2 separate regions of the Homo sapiens genome follow, and region 2 is linked to region 1. The links come from fine-mapping of genetic effects on gene expression. Tissue or cell type: whole blood. Region 1 holds a variant in brackets; the other region holds the start of a gene. Each region is shown on its reference strand, or each on the opposite one. Region 1 has its middle 28 kb from the start of CPEB4. Region 2 holds the start of RILP (Rab interacting lysosomal protein).

Evidence for each region. PIP is the estimated chance that this variant, and not a neighbour inherited with it, causes the effect.
Region 2: it holds the start of RILP, and the variant in region 1 is the best candidate, but not a certain one, in a credible set for the expression of RILP in whole blood (TOPMed, PIP 0.56).

Annotation. Positions count from the first base shown.
Region 1 is chr5:173,859,439-173,861,938 of GRCh38, forward strand. No RefSeq gene overlaps it. Among named protein-coding and RNA genes, the nearest start is that of CPEB4, 28 kb to the right of the region's middle. RefSeq lists a cis regulatory region at 1,094-1,561. The variant G/A (reference allele first, on the strand shown) is at 1,410.
Region 2 is chr17:1,647,839-1,650,816 of GRCh38, forward strand. It overlaps RILP (Rab interacting lysosomal protein), which reads right to left and starts at 2,028. Exons shown (of 8, transcript NM_031430.3): 1 at 1,739-2,028; 2 at 1,574-1,667; 3 at 1,362-1,468; 4 at 961-1,206; 5 at 512-657; 6 at 1-119. The coding sequence starts at 1,966. It overlaps PRPF8 (pre-mRNA processing factor 8), which reads right to left. Exons shown (of 43, transcript NM_006445.4): 43 at 2,791-2,978. The coding sequence ends at 2,964. RefSeq lists a silencer at 1,337-1,631.

The DNA.
Region 1 (2,500 bases):
GAATAAAGGAGGCTCAGAGAGATAAGTTTAGCTGCCCAAGCTCACACAGCAGGGAAGTGGCAGAGTCTGACTAGACCCAAGATCTCCTGACTCCAGCTGCAATCTTCAGAGAGTTACGATGATGACATACTTCATTGCACACAGGGAACAGGTAACAGAGCTGGGGAACCAAGCCCAGCACTCACCCCAGTCCACCACACAACCTCCCTGCTTGCATTTGCCCAATGAATAAATATTTGCTGCCCACCTGCCAGACACCAGGGTCTACTGGATGTCCTGAGGATGTAGCTATGAGCAAGTCAGGCAGGATCTGTGTGTCCCCAAGGGGCTCACCTTCTAGTGCAAGAGACAGATGATAAATAAGAAAGCTGGTAGGTTGACAAGGGTATTGTTGTTGGGATTATCTCATGGTGGAAATATTCAAGGGCTGGGGCAGGGGAAAAGGGTGGGGTATGTGGTCACTGCTTTAGACAGGAGGATCAGGAAAAGCTTCTACGAGGAGGTGACATTATCTGAGAACTTCAAGATGTGTAGGAGCCAGTCATGGCAGGGAGAACAAGAAGGGTAAGGGCCCAGAGGTGAGATGTAGCTTACCCGGGACAGGGAATAACACAGGGCAATATGGCCAGAAGGTCACAAATGAAGACCAGAAGGGCTCAGGATGAAGTTGGACAGAGGTTGGCAACAGATCTTGAGGATCACATAAAGGGGTTGAATATATTTCCCTAAGGGCAACACAGAGGCATTGAAGGGTTTAGGCATGGAGGTGACATGACCGGATTTGCATTTTAGAAAGATTTCTCTCTCTCTCTCTCTCTCTCTCTCTCTCTCTCTCTCTCTCTGTGTGTGTGTGTGTGTGTGTGTGTGTGTGTGTGTGTGTTTTAGAAAGAGGGGAGTGGGGAAAGGTTGCAGGGTGGGGACCTGGGAAGCCAGTGGAGTGCTGTAGAAGCCCAGACATAGCTGAATGAGGGCAGTGGCAATGAGAAAGGAAGAATGGGGCAAATTTGGGACATGTTTAAAAGCAAAATAATGCAGAGTTGTCGACAGCTTAAAAGTGAGCAGCGAGGGAGGGGAGGTGTTCAGAATGACTTCCAGGCTCCTGGCTTGAGCAAACTGGGTGAAGAATAAGGCTAGTCTAAGGACTGTTGGAGCAGGACAGTGCAGGAGGGCCTGGGTGAAGATTAAGAACGCTGCCCCAGGCTTGAGTCTTGAGTCCCACCCTCCAACAGAAGCCGTGCCACCAGCAACAAGATCCCTTCCCCCACAGAGCAGGCAGGACCAGCACCAAGATAACAATTCCCTCTGCCCAGAGCCTTCCGGGGACGCCAGCCAGCCAGGCCCTGCTGCAGCCAGGGCACTGCATGCTCTAGATTGGGTTCCTGGAAAAACTGTTCAATTATTGATAAGGA[G/A]CTCCCCTGACATCACTGAAAGACAACAACCCTCTCTCCTCGCTGCCCTACAGATCTGGGTTCCCCGGCTTGGCAGCTGGAATATGATGGGGGTGGGGGCCAATGCAACCCTTGAAACGCAGCCACAAGAAAGCACTCAGCATACAAAAATAATAACAATGCTGTAATAACTTACATTTTCTGAACACTTGCTATGTGCCAGGCAGGGTTCCAAGAAAGCTTGGAACCCTGGAACCTTGGAACTCTTCTTAAGAACTCTAAGATGGAGTTCCTATAATTATTCCCACGTTATAGGTGGAAAAACTGAGGCAAAGGGAGGTTAGGTAAATTGCCTCCTTAGGTCACCCAGCTTGGAAATGGTGAAGCAGTCTCGCTCCAGAGTCTGTGGTGTCCCCCACTTCTCTGGAACTGCTTCCAGGTGATAACACAGGTGGGGAGGGGAAGCTGGTAGCAGAGAGGCCTATTTTACCTTTCTGCATTTGAAATAAATAAGTTAGATATTAGAATGATGTGGGCAACATTGAACTAAGCCCCTATTCAGCGCAAATATTCACCACTTTACTAACCCTCTATGCAGTGAGAAATCTGCTCATACCATGTTACAGATTTCGAGAAAACTAAGGTTAAGAGAGATGAGAGGTTTCACCAAGTACTGGGCAGCTTGGAAATAACTAACCTGAAATCTGAACCTTGGTCATTTAACACCAAGGGCAGTGAGTTCTCTGACTTCACTGCACATATAAGTATATGCATATACCGTGTATATAAATTATGCACATTCCCTGAAAAGGATATTGATGTTTCCACACAGAGCACACATGCTACACGGTCCAACCTCATGTTGTGATGGCCATCTGAGTATTTCCATCCTCACAGAAAGCCCAGTGAAAGATCCACTCTGTAGCTAACACTCCAGCTGCTGCCACCTTGCTTGTTTTCTGATCTTGGGTAGGTGCTCTTCTTTTTGTGACCTTAGAAGAGAAGAAGTTACACCCTAAACCCATTTCTCTAATCCTCCACCAATTTACTGCTTTGAAATATTCAATTACTTCCTTTTATTTTCTTGTCTTTGAAATTTGTTCAATAGTTTG
Region 2 (2,978 bases), not on the chromosome of region 1:
TCTCTGCTTCCTCTGGTGTCCCTAACATCTTGGCCTTGATCTTCTTCCGCTGCTTCCGGACAGCCACCTTCATGGCCTCGAGCAGAAGGCCGGGGACCCGGTGGTCTGTGAGCAGCTCCCTAAAGAAAAGGGGCAGGGAGGGAGAAAGCCCTGGTGATGCCAGCCATGGGGATGCCAGCAGTGGAGATGCCAGCCGCAGTCCTCACTCCTGGTACCTGTGCACGCAGCTCTTCCCTGAACACGGGAAGCGCTCTGCCTTGCTGACACCCTCAGACCTTAAATTAGGTGGCCCCGTGGCCCCCTCCTAGGAGAGATTCCCTGGCTGCTGCAGCTGCAACCCTTTGTACTGTCCCTCTCCCCTGTCTGGATGACATTGCAGGAGGGCAAGGGCTGTACAATTCATGTCCTCCCAGTTCCCAGCGCAGGCCTGGCACATGTCACTGTGGACATGTCAATGACTGGAGAATGAGGTGGGGTGATCGGAGGCCCCCCGGCTTCCCAGCGTCCTCACCGCTGGAAGTAGGCCAGTTCCTCCTTGAGCAGGAACACTTTGGCTTTGAGTTCATTCCGCTCCTGAAGGATCTGCTCAAACTCCTCCCGACTGAAGCGGCACTGCCCTGCCTCCGAGGGGCGCCCGAGCTGCTGCGCGGCCTCCGCCTTTGGAAGGACAGGCACAGTCAGAGGGTCGCCTCGGCTGGCGTTCCCCCGCCCCAGGGCCATCATGGGAATGCTAGAGGAAGTGACGGGCCGGGAGACTTGGGGGACAAGGGTGCCCTAACAGATAACAGAGCAGTGCTCCAGCTGAGAGCGGGGGCCGAGGCCGGCCGGGGGCGCAGATCTGTCTGCCACCTCCCCGCTTCCTGGCCGACCTGCTGTGCAGCATGCAAACCTTGCTTGAGTGCCCACCGAGGGCTGGACGCTGCGTCCTGGGCTGGGTCCTTGCCCTCATACGGCACTCACCGGGTCCTCAGGGTTCCCTGGGGCGCCTGCGCCGGCGGTCGCCCATTCGGGCTCCTGTCCGTGCTGGTGCCCGGGCCGCCCGGCCTGCCCCCGCGCTCGCTCTTTAGCCTGCGGAGTCGCGGCTTCGCCAGGCTGCTGGCGCTCCCTCTCGCGGTCCTGCGCGGCGCGCAGCTGGGTCTGCATGGCCGCCAGCTTGTGCCGCAGCTCAGCGTTCACCAGCAGGAGGCGCTGCAGCTGCTCCTGCAACTGGGAGCGGAGCAAAGGGTGGGGTGGGCGGGGCACCGAGGGCCCCCCGGAGCCCCGCCCAGCGCCTGCCTCGCTCCGCCCCCGCCCCCGGAGCCCCGCCCAGCGCCTGCCACGCTCCGCCCCCGCCCCGCCCCAGAGCCCCGCCCCGCCCTCACCGCCTCGGTCTCCTGGCCGCGCTGCCGCAGGTCGCGGTTGTGCGCCCGGAGTTCGTCCCGCTGTCGGTCCGTGACCTCCTTGAGCTGCCGCAGCAGCGCGCGCTCCTCTGAGGAAGGGGCGTTCTTAGCGGCGGCGGCGCGCGGCCCGCGGGAGGGAGGGGAGGACCCGAGCAGGTCGTCACCCGCCCTGCCCTGGCCGGGGCTGCGCTTACCCTGTGGCCCCGCGCGCAGCTCCCTGCGGAGGCGCTCGTTCTCCTCCCGCAGCCGCCGCAGCTCCTGCTCCGCCGGCTGCGCCGACACCTGCAGCTGGGGAGACCCGGGTCTCAGGCTTCGGCCCTGCCGGCCCCGTGGGTGGCGAAGGGAGGGCCATGACTCACCGAGTCCGGGGCGGGCCCCACGGCAGCCTGTTCCAAGAGCTCCAGCGCCCGCACCACTAGCGGCACCAGCCCGGCCGCCGCCTCCGGCCCGAAACGGCGCGCCAGATCCTGCAGCTCAGTGCCCAGGGCCCCGGCTAGATGGTACACAAGCTCCGCGGCCGATGCCGACCCCGCGGCCTCCCGAGACCCCCAGCCAGGCACCCCGGGCGCCGCCCTCCTGGGCTCCATGTCTCCCAGAGGCTTAGGGCTGCGACCCCCCCACCCCACCCTCCACTGGGACGGGGAAAAGCGAAACAGTTCCGCCCCAGGAAGCCGTTTAGGGCGGTGTGGGCGGGGTAGAAGCGATAAGGGTAGGGAGGAACGAGGAAGGGAGAAGGCGTGGGGTAGGGAGATAGTGCCCTAGGTCGCCTGGGCTCTGTCCTTTCCACCCCCAAGGTCACAGGAAACAAGACAGCCAACTTCCAGCCAGGCGTCCAAGAGCTGAGGTTCAGGGCTGCAAGTGGTCACTTGAGTGGAGCCCTCCCCACAGGCCCAATCCAGGCTCCGCCCGTTTGGAGTCATGGGGCCAACTTGGCAGTGGCCCGCTCCAGGCGAGAGGTGACAGGTAGGCAGCCGGTCTCTGGCCTCCGCCCGGCTGTACACAAACTGCCTGCCTGTGTGCTTGTTTTCCTGACCAGGACTGACACAGAAAGCTTAAAGGGCTGGGCTGGACACCGCAGCCGCTCAGCACAAGCCACAGAGTTCCTAGACCCGGGAAAGGGCAACTGCTCCCAAAACTGTGGAAAGGAGGCGAGAGCTTCCAAGTAGTTTTGTGGAAAAAGCAGCAAATGTGGTCAAGGCAGCGGAGTGTGAAAGCCCAGCCCTGCCTCAGGTCTCCACTGAGTCCAGGGGCTATCTACCCCAAAGCCCTGAATAGGAAGGGGGCCTCATACTCCCCCCTTCACAGCCGAGCCCAGCATCTTGCTGTGAACCGCTCCAGTCCAGCCTCCTGTTAGACCTAAATCCAGAATTTGAGTTTGGGGGGGAAAAAAAAAACAAACCAGCCCCTGAACTCCTATTTATACAAAATTTATTATTATATTTTATTCAGGATGACAAGCCATCAGGAGGTCAACAACACAAGCACAGACAGAGGGAAAGAGGCCAAACTGCTGAATGTCAGCGGCCTGTCTGGAGGGGCTGAGGCTTCGGCCTCGGGAGGCTGAAGCAGGAGGCAGGGAAACGGTCAGGCATACAGGTC